4 linked regions of the Homo sapiens genome follow. The protein of the gene in region 4 interacts with the protein of the main gene of each other region in a biochemical or structural test. Each region holds a gene or a part of one and is shown on either strand. Other genes may lie near its edges.

What was found.
Region 1: the proteins of PRKG1 (region 4) and GTF2I form a complex in vitro, tested with the Homo sapiens proteins (one study listed by BioGRID).
Region 2: of the proteins of PRKG1 (region 4) and CREB1, one has a biochemical effect on the other in vitro, tested with the Homo sapiens proteins (one study listed by BioGRID).
Region 3: the proteins of PRKG1 (region 4) and WDR77 form a complex in vitro, tested with the Homo sapiens proteins (one study listed by BioGRID).

Annotation. Positions count from the first base shown.
Region 1 is NC_000007.14:74,743,287-74,749,722, forward strand, and holds part of GTF2I (general transcription factor II-I), read left to right. Parts: intron 1-162; coding exon 163-234; intron 235-1,471; coding exon 1,472-1,655; intron 1,656-2,596; coding exon 2,597-2,655; intron 2,656-3,050; coding exon 3,051-3,125; intron 3,126-4,728; coding exon 4,729-4,830; intron 4,831-5,738; coding exon 5,739-5,804; intron 5,805-5,981; coding exon 5,982-6,165; intron 6,166-6,436. UniProt on the Homo sapiens protein: Interacts with the basal transcription machinery by coordinating the formation of a multiprotein complex at the C-FOS promoter, and linking specific signal responsive activator complexes.
Region 2 is NC_000002.12:207,535,336-207,541,771, forward strand, and holds part of CREB1 (cyclic AMP-responsive element-binding protein 1), read left to right. Parts: intron 1-6,436.
Region 3 is NC_000001.11:111,442,824-111,446,256, forward strand, and holds part of WDR77 (methylosome protein WDR77), read right to left. Parts: intron 1,302-3,433; coding exon 1,231-1,301; intron 1,099-1,230; coding exon 1,044-1,098; intron 572-1,043; coding exon 500-571; intron 1-499. UniProt on the Homo sapiens protein: Non-catalytic component of the methylosome complex, composed of PRMT5, WDR77 and CLNS1A, which modifies specific arginines to dimethylarginines in several spliceosomal Sm proteins and histones.
Region 4 is NC_000010.11:51,076,667-51,083,102, reverse strand, and holds part of PRKG1 (cGMP-dependent protein kinase 1), read right to left. Parts: intron 1-6,436. UniProt on the Homo sapiens protein: Serine/threonine protein kinase that acts as a key mediator of the nitric oxide (NO)/cGMP signaling pathway. GMP binding activates PRKG1, which phosphorylates serines and threonines on many cellular proteins.

The sequences.
Region 1 (6,436 bases), on a different chromosome or scaffold from region 4:
CGCTCCAGCCTGGGCGACAGAGCAAGACTCTGTCTCAAAAAAATAAAACAAAACAAACAAAAAAGAATCACTGCAAACAAGAGTACTTTCTAGCAAAATCCATTCTGATTTGCAACAGCACTGATAAATAACATGGTTATTGGGTTTCTTTTTGTTTTCCAGTCAAAGAAGATTGGAATGTCAGAATTACCAAGCTACGGAAGCAAGTGGAAGAGATTTTTAATTTGAAATTTGGTAAGTAAAAGCCAGTATTTATGTCTTTAATAACATATCAACAAAGGGCCATGTCTGAATGAAGTATAGAAGTTCGGGACCAGCCGGGTGCAGTGGCTCACGCCTGTAATCGCAGCACTTTGGGAGGCCAAGGCGGGCGGATCAGGAGGTCAGGAGATCGAGACCATCCTGGCGAACACGATGAAACCCCGTCTCTACTAAAAATACAGGAAAATTAGCCGGGCGTGGTGGCGGGCGCCTGTAGTCCCAGCTACTCGGGAGGCTGAGGCAGGGGAATGGCTTGAACCCCAGAGGCGGAGCTTGCAGTGAGCCAAAATCGCACCACTGCACTCCAGCCTGGGCGACAGAGTGAGACTCTGTCTCAAAAAAAAAAAAAAAAGAAGGAAAAAAAGTTCAGGACCTAAAGAAGGAAGGTCCCAGAAACTGGGTTTCTGTTTCTTTCTACCACTACACTTGCTACTGAAACCAAGCAGATGACTTCATTTCTCTTGGATTCCACTTTCTCACGTGTCAGAATGGGAGAGGAAGGGAGGTGTTGGGATAAGTTTCAGTTCCACTGTTTGTACTTCTCGTCTGGCTAACACCCATGTGGCAAATAGGTTTCATCATTTGTTTCAGCTTAGATTTGTTGACAGCGGTTTCCTGGAGTGCTGTCTTGAGAACGATTCTGAGGAGGCTCAGCAAGAAAGAGTGTTTCAGTTGATTGGGTGTGTCTGTCATGGAGAAGGAAGTAAGGAGTGGGCAGTGCTAGCAAAATTCCCGGGGCACTTCTGTCCATTATCTCAATACCTGGGGTTGACATTTCCTGTCTCAGATCAGGAGTCCTGACTACCCTGCCTCTGACCACTCGAACTGAGTGCTGCTTAGCTGTATCGTAGACACCGCCTGTTTGTGAACAGACACCCTGCTTCTTGATGATAACACAAAGGCCAGCAGGGTCCACTGCTGTGTGGAATGGCCTTCGGTCATTTCTGCCCAGAGCATAGAGGTCATTTTCACTAATAACATAACTCTCCTTTTGATTGAAAGTGTTAAAATGTTCCTCCTAAAAGCACTTATTTTTTAGGCTCGTTCTTCAGATTTGCCCCATATCCTAAGCAAAATGCCTTCAATATGAAGTGGATATTGCTTGACCGTAGGGAGCTTGTCCATACTGTACTCGAGAATGTAGACACAAAGAAAGAATGTCTGTGTCAAATGTTATCCTCCGCAACTTAACGTTCTCTTGCACTTTCAGCTCAAGCTCTTGGACTCACCGAGGCAGTAAAAGTACCATATCCTGTGTTTGAATCAAACCCGGAGTTCTTGTATGTGGAAGGCTTGCCAGAGGGGATTCCCTTCCGAAGCCCTACCTGGTTTGGAATTCCACGACTTGAAAGGATCGTCCGCGGGAGTAATAAAATCAAGTTCGTTGTTAAAAAGTAAGTTCTTTTTGCCACTGTAGTCGTTTCTGGAATCAAAACAATAAAATGACATTTCTGTTAAGATGTTTTTCAAGCTAGAGGTGACAGGCGTGGCTGTAAGTCCTTGATGGCAAAGCCTGGCTGTGAGCTGCAGTCCGGGTACTGTCCATTGCCCCTGCCCATACTCAATCATCTTCATCCGTGCAAGGAAAATAGTGACAATCGCCTCCGCGGAGTCACCGTGAGGCCCCGTGGTGACTCGCAGTATGCCTGAGTACTTGAATGGAAGTTTAATTTGCTGGTTTTTATCTGCTCTGTTATTCCTGGTCAATCTTGAGAGCGACTAAATATTGATGATTGAGTTTCTTTCTTTTTTTTGAGACGGACTCTTGCTCTGTCGCCCAGGCTTGAGTGCGGTGGCGCAATCTCAGCTCACTGCAACCTCCGCCTCCTGGGTTCGAGCAATTCTCGTGCCTCAGCCTCCCGAGTAGCTGGGATTACAGACTTGCACCGCCACGCCTGGCTAATTTTTGTATTTTTAGAATAGATGGAGCTTCACCGTGTTGGCTAGGCTGGTCTGGAATTCCTGACCTCAGGTGATCCACCCGCCTCAGCCTCCCAGAATGCTGGGATTACAGGCATGAGCCACCGTGCACGGCCTAATGATTGATTTTCTTATCTACATTTCTGCAGAATTTTAGTGGCTAAAGAAAGTACACTAGTGTTTTTTTTTTCTTTTTTAATGAAAATAGTCACTTATTTACTCTTCATAAAATGGCTTACCAGTCATGGGAAGGAAAAGTCAGGGTCTTTTGTCCACAACACTAGGAATTATTGTGTTACAGGATGATTCTGTGAATGCCTTTAGAAAAAAAACCCTGATCACATCACGACCGTTTTACTAGCTGTGAGGCCACCACTGTGCTGGCTACTGTAACACTTCTTGGTTTTCTTTCTAGACCTGAACTAGTTATTTCCTACTTGCCTCCTGGGATGGCTAGTAAAATAAACACTAAAGGTAAGAGACGACGTGTACTCCGTATCCTATTTGAGCGCATTAAGACACTCTTTATCCGCATTCCTTAAATCATACGGAATCGGCCAATATCTCTGTGGGGCTTGGAGTTGTTTACTTTGCTTTCTAAGGTATTTTATTTAATGGAACTATTTTTCTTTTTTTTTTTTAAAAAAACAAAACATTTCATTGGAAATGTCACATTTGCAATCCCAGTTCATTCATGTTTTCACAGCTTTGTTGAGCCCCTGTGGAGGATTACACTACAAGTTTAATTCTGCAGGTTTCTTTGAAAAGAACCAAACTGTATGAATTTTAATACTCTGCTCTTATAAAGCATCTCCTTCTGTATTTTTTTTTCCCTACAATATACAAAAGGAACTCTGCTTATTTTACAGCTTTGCAGTCCCCCAAAAGACCACGAAGTCCTGGGAGTAATTCAAAGGTTCCTGAAATTGAGGTCACCGTGGAAGGTAAGGGCCAGTCCTCGGTATGTTTCTGTTCATTCTCTAGTTTACTAATTATGTCAGTTCACTAGCTATGTGTTTATACAGGTTTATACAGATGACGTTAACCAAACTAGCTTTTAACTGTGAACAGCTGCCTGTGATAAAGCTAAATTTCTGAATGCTTCTAATTGAAAATTTTTAAATCCTTAATAGAAAACAGATAACATGGATCACATCATAAACTTCCCCCAAGAAAAGTCCTAAAATGCTTTTCCTTTATCATAACAAATAAGGGTGCAGAGTCATGTGGAATGTTTTATCTTTTTTTTCCTCTTCATTTTTTTCTATTGTTTTAAGGAAAGAAAGTTTAGGGTGGTTTAAACAGCAGTGCCTTGAATAAAAGTATTTTCTTTTTCTTTTTTGAGACAGAGTCTGGCTCTCTTGCCCAGGGTGGAGTGCAGTGGCACAATCTCGGCTCACTGCAGCCTCCGCCTCCCGGGTTCAAGTGATTCTCCTGCCTCAGCCTCCCAGGTAGCTGGGATTACAGGCGTCCACCACCAACTCCAGCTAATTTTTATATCTTTAGTAGAGACGGGGTTTTACCACGTTGGCCAGGCTGGTCTCGAACCCCTGACCTCAAGTGAGCCACCACGCCCAGCTGGTTCTTGTCTTTTCAGGCTCACAGTGTTAAAATACTGCATACAATACTAAAGACAATCTCCAACCAACTGTCAAGTATGGATATTTCTTCCATCTCTTCATAAATGCAGAAGGAAATCACTGCATTAGGATCATTCTCTACATCCCAGGTGTCAAGTTTTTAAATAAGAGTTTGCCGTACTGGTGTTGAGTGGCGCAGAAGTCCCTATTTAGTCATGTGGCACACTTTCAGAGAGCCTGCTTTCTCATAAGATAGCCAACAAGCATCCATGGACAACTTACACCTGATTAATTATTTCTGTTCAAAAATGCCAAGAATTAAAAATATATTGAACCCTTGACTTTCCTCCTTCCGGAAGAGATCAGAGGAAGATCTCTCTTATATACAAGATGCCAGCCTTTCCTAAAGGGCAGAGCCAAGTTCACGGGGCCTGGGAGGCCTGCTTTAAGAATACAAAATTAGGGCCAGGCGTGGAGGCTCACGCCTGTAATCCCAGCACTTTGGGAGGCCGAGGCAGGCGGATCACCTGAGGTTGGGAGATCGAGACCAGCCTGACCAACATGGAGAAACCCCATCTCTACTGAAAATACAAAATTATCTGGGCCTGGTGGCGCATGCCTGTAATCCCAGCTACTCAGGAGGCTGAGGCAAGACAATCGCTTGAAACCAGGAGGCAGAGGTTGTGGTGAGCCGAGATTGCGCCATTGCACTCCAGCCTGGGCAACAAGAGCGAAACTTTGTCTCAAAAAAAAAAAAAAAAAAGAAGAAGAAGAAGAAGAGAAGAAAAATGGGTTTCTGTAGAAATAGAAAAATGGTTTCTGTGGAACTCGCCGGAATGACAAGAATACCCATTTCAATTTGAACCTAGCTTTGTTTTCTGGCACAGGCTGGACTTGAAGATTGTAACCTAGAGACACTTACGTCATTAAATGTGTGTTGATTATCATTATTTTTTCTGTCTTTTAGGCCCTAATAACAACAATCCTCAAACCTCAGCTGTTCGAACCCCGACCCAGACTAACGGTTCTAACGTTCCCTTCAAGCCACGAGGGAGAGAGTTTTCCTTTGGTAAGTAAGCGTTTTATTTTTCTTTCTTTCATAGTTTTAAATAGAATACGTTCATTATGTTTCATTTTACCAGGTGAATTGTTCCTATTGGTGAGTCAGTATATATCAAAGGTTAAAGGAATAGCCCGTAGAGCCAGGCTGCCTGAGTTCAGATCTGAGTTCAAATCCGATGCCACTTGGGCAGGCGAATACACCCTGCCTCAGTTTCCCTTTGTGCAAAATGGTAATAACATTACTTTCTTTCTCATGAGGTTATGGTGAGGATTATAAATACTGTCATTTAAAGTACTTAGAACCATACCTCGCATGTAGTAGAGACTATAATTTGTGGGGGCATTTTGGGGGTTTTCATTTGTTTTTTCTTTATTTTAGCATTTGTTCACTTATTTGTAGTCAACATAAAAGCAATGTACTAAAACAGTTTGCTTATGTATCAGGATGGGAGTAGTTGTCAAGTCATATCATGGTAAAAGATTATGCATTTTTTATTTCTTCTTAAAGATGCACAAATAAGGCCAGGCGCAGTGGCTCACGCCTGTAATCCCAACACTTTGGGAGGCCGAGGTGGGCGGATCACCTGAGGTTGGGAGTTCGAGACCAGCCTGACCAACATGGAGAAACCCCGTGTCTACCAAAAATACAAAATTAGCCAGGCATGGTGGCGCATGCCTGTAATCCCAGCTACTCAGGAGGCTGAGGCAGGAGAACTGCTTGAACTCAGGAGGTGGAGGTTGCAGTGAGCAGAGATCGCACCATTGCCCTCCAGCCTGGGTAACAAGAGCGAAACTCTGTCTCAACAAAAAAAAAATAAGATGCACAAATAAGATGAAACACTCCTGCCTGTGAATGTGTATTGATAAGTACTGTGATAAGTATTGCAATTTAACTCTCTTATGTTTTATATGCAGAGGCCTGGAATGCCAAAATCACGGACCTAAAACAGAAAGTTGAAAATCTCTTCAATGAGAAATGTGGTAAGTCTATTTTGAAACCTTCTTACTGCCACGCAGGGTGCCTTCATGGGAGTAGGAGGGAGCAGAGTGGGATACTGAGCGTTGGAGTATCCCTGTCATTGGCAACGTGTGGGTTTTTCGGGATTGAATGGCGTCATTTCGCCCATGTTCTGTTTCGTGTACGCGGCTGTTTTGCAGGGGAAGCTCTTGGCCTTAAACAAGCTGTGAAGGTGCCGTTCGCGTTATTTGAGTCTTTCCCGGAAGACTTTTATGTGGAAGGCTTACCTGAGGGTGTGCCATTCCGAAGACCATCGACTTTTGGCATTCCGAGGCTGGAGAAGATACTCAGAAACAAAGCCAAAATTAAGTTCATCATTAAAAAGTAAGGAAACTGGATGAAGTGGGATTAGCATGAGTTGATTGTGTTTGACACTGGGAGATGGGTATGTGGGTTTGTGTTTGTGGCAGGGCTGAATTAGCTCTGGAGTCAGAAAAACTGCTTTTTAAGCTGCACTCTTGTATATGTTTAAAACTTCTGGCCAGGTGCGATGGCTCACACCTGTAATCCCAGCACTTTGGGAGGCCAAAGCAGGTGGATTACCTGAGGTCAGAAGTTCAAGACCAACCTGGCCAACATGATGAAACCCATCTCT
Region 2 (6,436 bases), on a different chromosome or scaffold from region 4:
TACTTCTTTCAATTATTATTTTGGCCCAAAAGGTTTTTATAGCTTTCTTTCTTAATGAGAAAGAACATTTCATATAGTCCGGTGTTTTTTTGGGTTTTTTTTAACAGACAGCTCATGGGATATTATTACCCAGTAAGGCTGATTACTATACTAGATTTCTCCCTGCATTCATTTATTTTTTACATACTTGTTAACTTACCTTGACGATTTTCTAGTATTTCTTAATGTAATTATGTGAGTTTTATATTTTGTACCTAAATTTAAAAATAGTGAGATTCACCTATATGATTGCTGAGATGATAAACTTTACTGCATAGATGATTTTTTTACCCCCGTGGGGAAACCTTTGGTCAACCAGTTGGACCAAGTAATACGTATTTCAGCCAAAGCACAAAATGCGTTTCACTACCTTTTTTTTTTCCTCTAGCTTTTCGAAACAGCATTGAGCTACAATACTTTTTTATTTATTTATTTATTTATTTATTTTTATTTATTTATTTTTTTGAGGCAAGGTTTGGCTCTATCACCCAGGCTGGAGTGCAGTGGCACACACTTGGCTCACTGCAACCTCTGTTTCCTGGCTCAAGCCATCCTCCCATTTCAGCTTCCTGAGTGAGTGGGACAACAGGCGCGCACCACCAGGCCCGGCTAATTTTTTGTAGAGACAGAGTTTCGCCATGTTGCCCAGGCTGGTCTCAAACTCATGAGCTCAAGCCATCCACCTGCCTCAGCCTCCCAAAGAGTTGGGATTACAAGCGTGAGCCACCATGCCCGAATGCTGTAGTACATTTTAAATATACATGCTGTTTGTATTTATCTTTAAAATGTACACACTATGACTTTTTTGAGTTGATTAAACTCAGAAAGTGATTAATAATATAGCAGCAAGGGCACAAATCTCTTTCCAGAAAACATCATTAAGTAAAGCTGTCATGGGCCAGTCGCGGTGGCTGACGCCTGTGTGATCCCAGCACTTTGGGAGGCTGAGGTAGGTGGATCACCTGAGGTCAGGAGTTCGAGACCAGCCTGGCCAACATGGTGAAACCCCGTCTCTACTAAAAATACAAAAATTAGCTGGGCATGGGGGCAGGCGCCTGCAATCCCAGCTACTCAGGAGGCTGAGGCAGGATAATCACTTGGACCTGGAAGGCAGAGGTTGCAGTGAGCTGAGATTGCACCATTGCACGCCAGGCTGGGCGACAAGAGCGAAACTCTGTCTTAAGAAAAAAACAAAAGCTGTCATGGTATATTTCGTTTTTTGTATTCCCAAGTTGGTGTTTATGCGTTGATCATATATACAAAGTTTTTAATGTAAGAATATTGTTTTGAGGTTTTACTAATATTTGATTTAAAATATTACTATGTGCTATTTGGCCAGGCGTGGTGGCTCACGTCTGTAATCCCGGCACTTTGGGAGGTCGAGGCGGGCGGATCACTTGAGGCCAGGAGTTTGAGACCAGCCTGGCCAAGATGGTGAAACCCCATCTCTACTAAAAATAGAAGAATTATCTGGGTATAGTTGTATACGCCTGTAGTCCCAGCTGCTTGGGAGGCTGAGGCAGGAGAATTGCTTGAGCCCTGGAAGTGGAGGTTGCAGTGAGCCAGTATCACCCCACTGAACTCCACTCTGGGTGACAGAGCAAGATGCCATCTCATAAATAAAATATTACTGTGTGCTATTTGTACCTGCTAAATGATTAAAATGTTTACAAAGTGCTTTGTTGTTGTTGTTGTTGTTGAGACGGAGTCTTTCTCTGTTGCCAGGCTGGAGTGCAGTGGTGCGATCTCAGCTCACTGCAACCTCCGCCTCCTGGGTTAAAGCGATTCCCCTGCCTCAGCCTCCCAAGTAGCTGGGATTACAGGCGCCTGCCACCATGCCCAGCTAAAGAGACAGGGTTTCACCATGTTGGCCAGGATGGTCTCGATCTCCTTGACCTCGTGATCCACCCACCTCTGCCTCCCAAAGTGGTGGGATTACAGGCGTGAGCCACTGCGCCTGGCCTACAAAGTGCTTGTCTTTACATATTTGGGGATGGGGGTGGGGTAGATCATTGAAATCTGTAAAGGCAGAACGTTTTTTATCTGGAACATATCTGTAGACTAACAGAGTTAAATGATTTCCCACAGTGTCATGGAATCATCAGTGGATTGCCTCTTGGGGTGGAGGCAAAGATCATTAAAGCAGCAAACTGATAATGTGAACGTGGTTGTTTTTTCTCTGCCAATTAAATATATGCTAGTTTAGTCATTATAGAAGAGCCAGATGCTGGTCAGCTTGTTGAAGTTGTAAGTAGAAGGTGTGGTTTTATCACATCTGTAAATGTAGGTTTTTGAGACAAAACTTAAATAAGAATAGACGTTAGTTTTTATTCACATTCAGAATGTCTGACTCCCCTTAATATATACACACTCTTGTCTTATCTACTGGGTTTTTTTGTTGTTGTTTTTTGTTTTGCCTTTTCTCTCTCTCTTTTTAAGCTCTGCCAGACAAGGCCCTATGAAGATAGGTTTTACAGGTTGAGAATCTTTTATCTGAAATTCTTGGGACCAGAAGTATTTCCAGTTTTGGGTTTTTTCAGATTTTAGAATATTTGCATATACATACATAATGAGCTATCTTGGGGATGGGACCCAAGTCTAAACATGAAATTTGTTTCATATACACATTATACACATAGCCTGAAGGTAATTTTATACAAAATTTTTAATAATTTTGTGCATGAAACAGTTTTGACTGTGAACTGTTACATGAGGTCAGGTGTGGGAATTTTTCATGGCATCATGTCAGTGCTCAAAAAGTTTGAGATTTTGGATGTTTTATTAGGGATGCTTACCCTGTATTATATTTTGCCCAGATGTTTCCTCATTTGTCTTCTAGGCTACCAGAAAGATGTTAGCTTAGAAAAACGTATTCTGGCGTTTATTCCAACAGATGAGAAGGCAGTTTCTCCAGTGATGAATAATTACCTATAATTTAATACGTGCATTATACATCTCCAGTGATGAAAAATCACTGTGTATTAAAAAATTCTTGAAGCTAGGTACATAATCTCAACTCCTAAAAAAGAAAATAAACAGTAGTACTCCTTGATGAACTTACAGATGCTAAGTTGCCTTTTCTTAGAGTTGAAATAAGGTGATAAAGGAGTTTACCGTGAGACTAGCTGTGTGAACAAAGATGAAAAACACCCTTTCAGTTTTCTTCCTCTTGGATGATTCTAGGATCTCTAAAAAATAATCTTAAAAGGGGCGAGGTTTTGAGAGGATGAGGTCTAAGGAATTGATGGTGAGTTTTTTCTGAAAGAAGAGAAGTGACATTTGATTAGATAAGAAAGGGTTAAAAGGGAAGTTATTAATAAAATAGTTTAGGAGTAGAGTGGATCTGAAAGTTGACTTATACCAATGATGATAGAATGTGTCTTTTCCCAAAGGTTAGTGCATCTTCTCTGAAATGAAGACGTTTCTTTCATCAATTTTAAGTGAATTTCTAAGGATCTGGTTATCTACTTGTGAGTTTTTGGTTGTAACTGTATGACAGTACAGATGTAACTAAAAATGTTTGTAATTTACCCAAGGTTAAATAACCATTATTTTTGAGGGCTGTTATCCCTGTTGGTATAAGTAAGTAGTTGGCAGTAGGGGACACAGAAATACCTTGTTTTTCACCACTGAAGTGAAAATTACAGATTATTCTGAATTATTTGTACTCTTTTTTTTTTTTTTTGAGAGGAATCTCGCTCTGTCTCCCAGCCTGGAATGCAGTGGTGTGATCTCGGCTCACTGCAACCTCCGCCTCCTGGGTTCCAGCGATTCTGCTGCCCCAGCCTCCCAAGTAGCTGGGATTACAAGCATGTGCCACCATACCTGGCTAATTTTTTTTTTTTTTTTTTGTATTTTTAGTAGAGACAGGATTTCACCATGTTGGCCAAGCTGGTCTCGAACTCCTGACCTTATGTGATCTGCCTGCCTCAGCCTCCGATTACAGGCATGAACCACCGCCCCCAGCCCTATTTGTACTCTTAAAGGGGAGTCATTTTCTTATAATAAGTATCAGTAGTAGCTCTATTGTTTGCTGTGATCAATGGTGACACCTTGACTTTATGTATTGCCATTTATCAATCATTTATTCAGTGAAGATTTATTGACCATTGACTTTATTATGGTTGGTGAAATAATCGCAAGAAAATTTATTCAGTTAGGTATTTATAAAAATACCTAGGTATTAAATGAAGATTGTTCTAGTTGATATAAGCAATAAAGCCTGACTATATGGCTCCTACCCTCAAGAATCTTACGGTATAGTAGGGATGATGAAATAGTGTAAGAATGATTTATATGTGCCAGAGTACATGACAGAGTTTTTACTGTCTTGAAGAGCTACAGAGTTCAGAAGAGAAGGGGCTTAGTGAGGAAAAGTTTTGTGGGAGAAGTAGAATTCAAGTTGAATACTAAAGAACTTCAGTAAGTACAGATAAAATGGAGTGTATTCTAGGCAGTGGAATGGACAAAAAAATGAAAACATGGACATATAATGAACTTGACATACTCATAAATTGGTGAAGAAAGTATTAGATTATAGATCTACATTTTGAGGAATGCTGAGTATGAGGCAGGGAGCTTTGAGTTTCATGTAAGAGAAGGTAAGATATAAACAGGAATACAATGATAAATTGGGCTGAAATGTAGATTTCCTGACTCCCAATTCTTCTCCTTAGTGTAGACAGAGATATACAGTCATGCACTGTATAAGAACGTTTTGGTGAATGACAGATTGCATATACAACAGTGGTCCTGTGCTAGTGTAAGCAAACCTATTAAGAACTTCAGATAGGTCCTTCAGGAGGTATTCCAGAAGAAGGCATTGTTACCATAGGAGATGACAGCTCCATGCATGTGATTGCCCCTTGAAGACATTCCAGTGGGACACGTTGTGGAGGTGGAAGGCTGTGATGTTGACAATCTTGACCCTGTGTAGGCCTAGGCTAACGTGTGAATGTCTTTTTAACAAAAAATTTTAAAAAGTGGCCGGGAATGGTGGCTCACGCCTGTAATCCTAGCACTTGGGGAGGCTGAGTCAGGCGGGTTGCTTGAGCCCAGGAGTTTCAAGCAGCCTGGGCAAAATGGCGAAATCCTGTCTCTACAGAGAATACAAAAATTAATTAACTGGGCTTGGTGGTGCATGCCTGTAATCCCTGCTACTCACGAGGCCAAGGCAGGAGAACCCAAGAGGCAGAGATTGCAGTGAGCTGATACTGTGCCACTGCACTCCAGCCTGGGTGACATAGTGAGACCCTGTGTCAAAAAAATAAAGTTTAACAAAAAAGTTTAAAAAGTAAAAAAAAAAAAAAAAAAAAAAAAAAAAGGAAAAAACCTTAGATTCTTTTATTGCTTTACTTTATTACTAAATTTGCTTTCACTTAAAAACCCTTTAGAGAAAAAATATTTTTATACAGCTGTACAATTTATTTGTGTTTTAAGCTATGTGTTATTACAAAAGAGTTGACAAGTTAAAAAAACTAAAAAGCATATGAAGTTACAGTAAGCTACGGTTAATGTATTACTGATGAAAGAAAATTTTGTTTATATAAATTTAGTGTAGCCTGGATGGGCACAGTGGCTCACACCTGTAATCCCAGCACTTTGGGAGGCCAAGGCAGGTGGATTACCTGAGGTTAGAAGTTCGAGACCAGCCTGGCCAACATGGTGAAACCCTGTTCCTACTAAAAGTGCAAAAATTAGCCAGGTGTGGTGGCAGGCGCCCGTAATCCCAGCTACTCAGGAGGCTGAGGCAGGAGAATAGCTTGAACCCACAGGTGGAGCATGCAGTGAGCCGAGATCGTGCCACTGCACTCCAGCCTGGGTGACAAGAGCAAGACTCCATCTCAAAAAAAAAAAAATTAGCCTAAGTATACAGTGCCTTTGAAGTCTACAATAGTGTACAGTAATGTTGTAGGCCTTCACATTTCTCACACTGATTCACCCAGACCAACTTCTAGTCCTGCAAGCTCCGTTTGTGATAAGCACCCTGTACAGATGTACCATTTTTTATCTTTTATATTTTATATCTTTTATTTTTACTGTACCTTTTCTATGTTTGGATATGTTTCGATAACAAATACTTACCGTTGTGTTACATTTCCCCACAGTGTTCAGTACAATACCATGCTGTATGGGTTTGTAGCCTATACTATGTAGCCTTGGTACATAGTAGGCTATACCATCTAGGTTTTGTTTTCTAACCTAATTAACTAATGATGCATTTCTCAGAACATATTACCATCAAGTGACACATGACTGTATATGTATTACAGTTAAAAATTGGACATCATAGATTCTTTTTTAAACAGCTTTATTGAAATATAATTCACATACTCTACAATACACCCATTTGGTGTGTACAGTTCAGTGGTTTTCAGTATATTCACAAAGTTGTGCA
Region 3 (3,433 bases), on a different chromosome or scaffold from region 4:
AATCCTAGTTCCTCGAGCTTGTAAAAGTTAACCATTCTGAGCATCAGTTTTCTCTTTTGCAAAGTAGGAATAATAAGTCACTGGATCATTGTGAAAATTAAGTTAATGAACGAAGCAGTTATTATTTTAACCACAAACTATGTCACCATATACACAGCCTCATGACCACGATAGCGCTACACCTACCCACAGTAGGACAGAATTCGCTATATAGCAATCCACTTGCTTTGTGGATCACTGACTTATAGCCATGCCCAGAATACAGAAGCTGGATCAATCAATCAAAAATCAAATCCACTGGGAAAATAATCATGTTCTCCAAAACTACACTAAAACTACGTTGGCATCACCCCACCTCCCCACCCTCAATTCATAATTCATCTAGTGTCCATGAGGGCTAAGACTGAGCAACAAGGGCCTTGTGTGTTGTGGAGTCAGCTCTTTCTTTTTCCTCCTCCCCTTTCCCAGAGTCAATATGAAGTCTGACACGCTGCCTTACCAAAGACAAAGACTTCACTTTGCTGAGGATGCCAAGCCAGCGAGGTAGGAAGGTAGCCAGGCGCACTGCAGCCTGCAAAGGAGAGACGAGGGTCTGGACCAAAACTCAGAGTACAGAAGAAGCAGTTTCTCAAATGATATCACTCTAAATCCTGGGAGCACCTTTATTTGATTTCCCAAACCCTGCTAAGGCAGCAGTGTCCTCATCCTTGAGCCTCATAACCATTTATCCCAGCAGCCTCCTGCCCTTTCTGGACACGAGTCACAGGCAAGTTTCAGGCACGAATCATGACGATAACAATTCTGGCCCCTTTGTCCTACCATCTAATAAAGTAAATCACCCACCCAGGAACTGGCCCTTCCTCTTGGTATTCATTGCACAGAATGGGGTTAGCAGAGCCTCACTGGAAAAGAAGGAGATTATGTCACTCATGTCACAGTAACTACACTGGGCATCTAGCAACTATGCTTTGACACTGGCCAAAGACAGTCTCTTCTATCAGGGTTCCAAGTACTATTCTCCCACCAATGAATCTCAGACTCACCAATCTGTGATGCTGGCTTGGGACAGCGGGTATCCCAGAGTAAAATTCTATTGTCCTAGAGGAAGGTGGAACAGAAAAAGGATTTCATAATCCAAAGGAGCAGTTGCAGGCCAGAAAGTCTCCCCACTAGAGACTTTGGCCTATGGATGGCTGGAGTGTGTTTAGGGAAGAAGGAGCTATCTCTTACCTCGCTGCATGAAAGAAACACAGAGTCCTTGTGAGGAGAGGCAGCAACACAAGTGACCTGAGCAGCATGAGCTATAAAGGAGAGAGAAAGAGAAATATGATAGAAAACAAGCTGAAGCATTACTAGAGGGCCAGCCCAGGAATAATCAAGGGGCAGGAGGGAGGGAGGGCTGGTCTCATGATGCAATTTAACAAATTTTGTGGGAGATTATGGATTAGACAAAAGCTAAGAGGAGAAGTTTATAGACTTATAAAACCTAAAAAGCCTTGTAAAAAAAAAACGTATTAGTGAAGATAATGAATGAGAAATTAGGGGCTTAGTAAGAATAACAAAGGAATTTCCAGTTTAGGCATCCTAGACGTGAGGGCTAAATAATTCTAGAATAGCAGTCTTCATACTGGAGTACACACACCTCCAAGTAGTATACAAAAACTTTTGAGGGAGTTCTGGGCGCTAATAGTATTAAGAGAGCCAATTTCTCTAATGTTCTCTTTCTTAAAATTGAACTGCCTCTGTTTTCAATCACTCTTCTCCCACTTCATAGAAAGAACACATACCTGTCATTCATCCCAGATCTTTCCACGCTACAATGCTCAGGGGTATAAAAATATAAGGGTTCTAAACTAAGGGACAAAAGGGGCTTTTCCATAAGAACCAAAGAGCAAAAAGAAAGAGCATCTAGGTAAAATTCAATGAAGGGGGCTGATCTTGTTTCAGTCACACCACAAACACAAGTATGGCTCTGTGACTTAACTCTGTTTCTGTCTAATAATGAGAACTAAAAAATATGATAGATCATTGTGATAAGGACATATTCAACAACTTTATCTGAATTTAAAAACAAAGTCAGACTTTTTCTGACAGAAAATTTAGTCTATCTTGGTCCACTGGCTTTACAATGCAGACTGGCTTTTGCCAGTTAGGCTGTTTGGTAGACATTCATGCAAACTAAGTAGCGTTAACCTGCGAATCTAAAATTTTGACAAATATATGCTTGAAATAAGCACACAATAAATTATATGCCAGAAATTACCTTCTCTGCAACTACTTAAATAAGCATTTTTAGGTATCAGTTTAAAAATGTATGAGGGGGCACAGATTTTCAAAACTGTTTTAGGAGGTCTACATGTAAAAAACTTTAAAGTCACTGCTACATGTTAATTAGAAGCTGTGGAAACCTTTTCTACAGTCATTTTACCAGACTTTCCCAGGTAGTCTGAATGTGGCCCTTCCCTGAGGCAGAAGGATGGAATTAAACCAGTTTCCATAGTTCTTTCCTAGCCCTAGAATTCATAGAAAGCCAACAGGATAAGAAGTAAGAAAAGGAATTTATTGCTCACTTGAAAAAAGCAAAGCTCTGGGACAAGCACCATGGTGGTGTACAAAAGATGAATACATGGTTCCTCTACCCTCAAAGGTTTTGGGGCAGGGTGCAGTGGCTCATGCCTGTATCTCTCAGCACTTTGGGAGGCCAAGGCAGGAGACCACTTGAGCCCAGGAATTTGAGACCAGCCTGGGCAACATAGCAAGACTCTGTCTCTACAAAAAATAGAAAAATAATAAAGGATTTGGAATTCAGCAGGGGGAATAAGACACAAACACAAAGAACTAACAAAAAGGCTGCATGGCAGAAATGCTGAAAAAGAGTTAGCATTAACCAGGAAAGCACATCATATGTCTAAGAAATAAAAAGCAAATATAATAGACATAGAACATTGACTTTTTTTTTTTCCCTGAGACAGTTTCACTCTGTTGCCCAGGCTGGAGTGCAGTGGCGTGATCTCGACTCACTGCAACCTCCGCCTCCAGGGTTCAAGCACTTCTCGGGCCTCAGCCTCCCAAGTAGCTGGGATTACAGATGTGCACCACTACGCCTGGCTAATTTTTGTACTTTTTGGTAGAGTCAAGGTTTCGGCATGTTGGCCAGACTAGTCTCTGACTCCTAGACTTCATATGATCCACCCGCCTCAGCCTCCCAAAGTGCTGGGATTACAGGCGTTAAGCCACTGCGCACAGCTGGGCATTCAACATTATTGTAAAACTATTTCCAAGTGACCCTGAGGGTCCAGGATACTGGACCTTGGATATGAGTCAGTGATTTCTCTGGCCTATAACTTAGTCATGTACTTTGAAGTTAGAAATGGCAGGGAAAGGCACTTAGCCATTGAGAGAACCACAGTGATCCCCCAGCATCTAAACCTTG
Region 4 (6,436 bases):
CCAGGGACTTGGGTTGCTCAAAAAGAAACAAGAAAGGTGCTTCCCCAAAGAATAGGAATTCAAGTAGTCTGTAACAATCAACAATGAATGGGTCATAGCAGAGGTTTCTCAACCCTGGCTGAATATTATAATCACTTTGGGAGTAAAAATAATATACCTATACCTCAGGTCTACCCCAGAGCAATTAAATCATAGGCTCTGGAGGTGGTGCCCAGCAAATGTATGTTTTAAAGCTCCCTAGGTGATTGTAACATACAGCTATGTTTGAGAACCAATGGGCTAGGTAGGGAAATGATCACTTGTTTAGGAGAATAAACAAGAAGGCATCAACTAAACTACACGTACAATTTGTCTACACGTACAATTTGGCAAAAAAAAAAATCCAGCTATGCTTTCGCAGGCCCCTAGTGCTTAAAGGTTTTAGCCAATAGAGACATTCAACTCTTTAGATGAACACTTTATCCTGGTCTTTTGTTTAATATCACACACAAATGTACACACACAACAAACACACACACTCCTCTTGTCATCTTCCTATTAGAGTGGTTATCAAATTTTGCTACACGTTAAAGTTACATGGAGAATCATCAAAAATTACTGATATGTAGCTTCCAACACCCGGACATTCTGATTTTAATTGGTTTGTGGTACAATCTAGGAATTGGATTTTTATGTTCCCCATGTGATTCTAATGCGCAGGAAAGTTTGGGAACCGCCGTCCTACATTATTTCTTCCACTAGTCCCAGAGTCCTTCTGCTTCCTATTTAATTATTGGTGAACAGATACACCCCAGAGAATGACCTATATGTTATTCATAAAGTTTTCCTGCAGCTACCTAATCCCCATGACCCTTTGGGCAGTAAGAGAGCCTAGTGGCTAAGGAGAAAAGCTCTGGAGCTCAAATTCAGGCTCAACCTAGTGTGACTGTGGGCAAGTTGCTTCACTTCTCTGCGCCCCAGAGTTCTTTTTCTCATGCTGTGAAATTGGGATAATCCAGAATCTTCCTCATAGGGTTGTTTTTGTCCTAAAAAAAAGATGATCAGGTGGGGTGCGGTGGCTTACATATGTATTCCCAGCACTTTCTTTGGAGGCCCAGATGCTGGAGAATCATTTGAGGCCAGAAGTTCAAGACCAGCCTGTGCAACTGAGACCCTGTCTCTACAGAAAAAAATTAAAAATTATCCAGGTGTGGTGCTATGTGCCTATAATCTTGGCTACTCTGGAGGCTGAGGCAAGAGGATCACTTGAGCCCAGGAGTTTGAAGCTGCAGTGAGCTATGGCTGTGTCACTGCACTCCAGCCTGGGCAATAAGACAGAAAGAACCTGTCTCAATCAATCAATCAATCATTCAATCAATGAAAGAGACAATCTATATAAAGCACAGGAGCAGTGCCTGGCACAGAGTTAGTGCTCCATAAATGTTACCCAATCTGATGATGATGAGCAGTGTAATTCTTGATGCTTTCATTCAGAAGCAGGATGCACTGAGTTGTTGCCCTTATTCTTGTCCTCTGCACTGTTGGCTGCACAAACACCACCAAGTCCTCAATGATGTCAAATTAAGGAGCATTTCAAAGGGACAATACAATGCATTCAAAACAAGCACTGGTCTAATGGGAAACTATCTTCAGTATAGCTCCCTAAGAAGGCAAGCCTTCGATATACTCTAATTTGGGTGTCTCTTCTCTATGGCAGTCTTCATCCATAAAGTACTATCTTACTTGCAAGCTCTTTTCCAGTCTTGTCACCTATTTACTTGCACACAAAGCCTATCACTATTTTCCAACTTCCTTGCAAATATGGCATAGTTTTACCAATACCCATCTCGTTTCGCCCTTTCTTGTTCCCTCGATATGCATTTCTTCTTCTCACTCTACTCTCCAGCTTTTTTCATTGCTTATAAATTTCACGCTTAAAATATAGGCAGCCTCTAGAAGCTGAAAAAGACAAGATATGGAGTCTCCCCTAGAGCCTCCAGAAGGAATGCTTATATGAATTTTATAAGCAATGAAAAAAGCTGGAGAGTAGTATGCTTATAAAATTCATTCAGAAATAAGACAGTTTTGAGAGTGTACTATTAGTTCCACATTGTGTTAAACATCTGTTTTGTGTAGCTGAAGTTTTTGTGCTATTGTTTATATTTACAGGACAGTTTTGGAGGGAGAAAATTCCTCTGCTCTTACAAACAAAATTATCCTTAGAGAGTTCAAACAGGTTGCACATACTGAACTTCTCAGAAAATAAATTTTAAGGAAGTGCTGAGGAACACAGTCGTTACAGAAGATGGTGAGAGGGAAGCAGAACCGGTGTCAGAACTGAGTGTGAGGAAGCAGACAAGGGCTGTCGGGGAAGGGGTGGCAAACAGTACCAGCTCAACAATTCAGATTAGGATACAAAATGCCAAGGATGTGATTGCATAATAAGTTGTTGAGCATACTGGTAAATGCTGCTTTCAGCATGTGCTTATTTATCACATTGTCTTGCGTTCTCTGAGCTTGAAAGGTTCAAGTCAGAGGATCTGGAATGCTAGCAACAGACCCAGTTTCTTGGGATGGGCTGCAGCACCTATGGTAGAGATGGCAGAAAGAGCAGCAGCCTGGTGTTCGAATATGGTTGCTAGGATACCATGGAGACCCTCCATTGCTAGGCAGACAGAAAAAAAAATGTGTCCATATGCCTTATAACCTGCAAACAGCAACAATAGAAACATCATCTGTGTTCTTCTACCCTTTCCCATTAGGAATCCAGATAACAAGTAGCAGGAGCTTGGAAATGTGACCCAGTAGAGCAAGGAAGCTGGTAATTTATATTCTCAGGCAGGTAGTAGAGCCATTCTATTTAAGAGCTTACCAGTATCTTCATTATAAGACCCATTTTGGGGGCATGCAACTTGACTGTGCTTCAAAATACCCTAATAGGGTTTTAGCACGCTGGTCTCATACATTTTTATAAATGCTCCCGGGACTTCATTTCTACTGCATAAACTGTAATGTCAAATTAACAATCAACCTTAAATTAGAAACTCTATTAGAATAACATTAGGTTGGAATTTAACTCCTCCACAAAAACAAGAAAGATGACTTTCGAAAAACAACTTCAGGTTCAATTCTCATTGATGTTCAGTTTGCCTAGGTATGTGAGGAATCTGCAGTGCTAGTCTGTGGCATCAAGTTAGATTACTTTCAATGAGAACATTTGGAAGTGAGTGGAAAAAGGAACTTGGAACTTGGTTTCTTTAAGACTTCTAATCATCTGCTGTTTGCTTCAATTAACTACTCTTACCTAGTTATATAGTTACGACTATTAACAGGACTGTGATGGTGGGGGTAAGAAAGCTGAACTGATATTCTGGCATTCAGAACTGCATTAGTGGGTAACTATTAGTCCTTGGTGTAAAACACACACACACACACACACACACAAATGAGCCTTAGCTATTCTAAAACCCAAAAGAATGCCCTCTCGCCTACTTTATCAAATCATAGAAACCAAGATTCTCATTCTCACTGGCCTAAACTTGCTTTTCCACAGTTCCCACTACAGTACTTTAGCACAGCCACTAGTTGCTCCCAATTCCCAGAGGGGCCCTGCTTTCTTTTTCTGTGCTGTCACTTTGCTAATGGCTTGGAATGTATTTCCCCAATCCCTATCTCTATCCCTCCCTCTTTCCTCTCATTTCCACTCACCTAAATCATAGCCCTTCTTCAAATACTTACTTTAAACCCTTCTACTTCCACATGAGTTTCTGACACCATAAAACCAAACAGGCTTGATTATATTTTGCCAACTCTCTTAGTTATCTCCCCTGTGACTTACCTTACTCTATCTACTTTCTAGAATATTTACTTGTGCAGTATTGTTAACCCCTTGTTCACTCCTGGATGGTAGGACCTATGTAGCTCTTACCTCTAATGCCTTACAATATTTTGCATGTCACAGGCAATCCCATAGAAGTATTGAACTGAGATGTAGGGCACTTTTGGAATTAAATTTCTACCTTTCAAGCCATCTATGTTTTAATATTATGCCATCTATGATTACACTAGAATTCTAGAATTCTCTCAACTTCCAACAGAATTTAATATACAGTCTTTAGGAACATTTTGTTTTTCTTGAGATATATCAGTATAAAGTTTAAAAGATTAAATAATCTCTTAAAATGAATGCCTCCTTAAAAATAAAAATAGGCCGGGTGCGGTGGCTCACACCTGTAATCCCAGCATTTTGGGAGGCCAAGGCAGGCGGATCATGAGGTCAGGAGATCAAGACCATCCTGGTAACACTGTGAAACCCCGTCTCTACTGAAAATACAAAAAAATTAGCCGGGCGTGGTGGCTGGCGCCTGTAGTCCCAGCTACTCAGGAGGCTGAGGCAAGAGAATGGTGTGAACCCGGGAGGCAGAGCTTGCAGTGAGCTGAGATGGCACCACTGCACTCCAGCCTGGGCGATAGAGCGAGACTCCGTCTCAATAAATAAATAAATAAATAAATAAATAAATAAATAAATAAATATAAATAAATATTTTTATCCTCAACTCCTCCAAAGTACTTCGCAATGAAAAAGTGAAACAGGGGCCAGGTGTGGTGGCTCACATCTGTAATCTCAGCACTTTTGGAGGCCCAGGTGGGCTGATAACCTGAGTTCAGGAGTTCAAGATCAGCCTGGCCAAAATGGCGAAACCCCATCTCTACTAAAAAAAAAAAAAAAAAAAAAAAATAGCCAGGCATTGGTGGCACGTGCCTGTAATCCCAGCCACTCAGGAGGCTGCGATGGGAGAGTTGCTTGAACCCTGGAGGCGGAGGTTACAGTGAGCCAAGATCGTGCCACTGCACTCCATCCTGGGTGACAGAGTGAGACTCTGTCTCAACAACAACAACAAAGGAAAAAGAAAGGAAACAAAATAGAACATGGAGTGAAAGCAACAGCTTACAAAAATACAAAGACACTAACCACTTTTAGGAACTCAAGTCTATATAATCCAACTGAAATGACTGAAACCCTGTGACATGAAAATGGAAAAGATTTGGGAATATTTTCAAAAGATAAGGGGTTTAGATCAAAATTTCAGAGACTGAATGTTCTAACATGATATAGAATCAATTTCAGGAATGAAACTTCATGAAATAAAATTACTTAAGTCCATAAGAACTATTCTATATAGGCAATCAACAGGCTATCTGATCTCACATAATGAATGCTTAGGTTTTGTTTTTCATTTTAAGGGTTTATTTGCTCAGTTTATTTCCAAATATAGTTTAGTAGTTTTACATTCTCAAGGAGTTATTTGGTAGCAGTGGAATACAGATTCCAATTTGCTACATCAGTTCTTTCCTTCACATAAGTATTGTATCTATACAGATTGTGAAAGAGACCAATAAAAACCCTCCTCCTACCTCATAGTTATAGCAGGAGTGTCCTGGCTCAGTGCTGGAATCTGACAGAACCTTCCCTCCAATTCCCACATTAAAGGAAAAATTCCAAGCCAAAAATGTTAAAATGATTCAAGTTATTAAGTTAATTTACATTTTATACTATTTTTAAATGACCAAATTTACCAAGAAACCAGAACTAAAAAAAATTATAATCCTCAGAAGGCAACCTTAGTAAGTAAAAACTAAACAGATATATTTGCATATATCAGATAAATGAACAGAACATTAGCGGGGCAGTTACCTACATCTAAAAAAAAGAGAATCAAAAACTAGCATGAACGTAAACTGGAAATTAATGTGTCTATTTAGATAGTTTCATTTTAACTGGAAACTCACAATAATCTATATGTATGTTTAAGAAAGATGGCTACATTTAAGATGTAGTAAAGATGAAATACAAAGACACAAACACTTGTTGCCAGTAAGTCCGTGTAATCAAATTATTCATAGTGAAATACATTGAAAGGCAAACAAGTCTTCTTTGGTTTGGCAGGTTTTCTTAACTCTTTGTGGAGCTACCTTGTACAACCATTCAAACAACATAAGATTTATTCATTTTGCATACAATGTACTTCTTTTTTCCCTAAGAAAGGTACACTTTCTACTACTCAAGCCAATTTTTTTCTAGTTTTCTTTATGTAAGTGTGAAAAAAGAACAGATGTTTTTCCAAAATTATTTAAGCTTGGAAGGCATTCTATCATTTTCCTCAATAAAATACTTCAGAGTCACCCAAAGCATCATGGCAATACCTTAAGAGCTGAGTCCTTTAAAATACAAGTTATTAGTAAGAAATCAGTATCAGGACACACAGTGTTGTTTGATAGATAAAATGTTATTATAATGATAGATAAAATGTTATTATAATGGGATGCTGTAAATTATTTGCCACACCAGCTTTATTTTCCACTCTGGACCTTTTTCGTTTGTTTGTTTTTCAATCTAGATATTCTACAAGTCATGTACAAAGAGGCTTTTAAACTTATCACATTGTATAGCTCATTC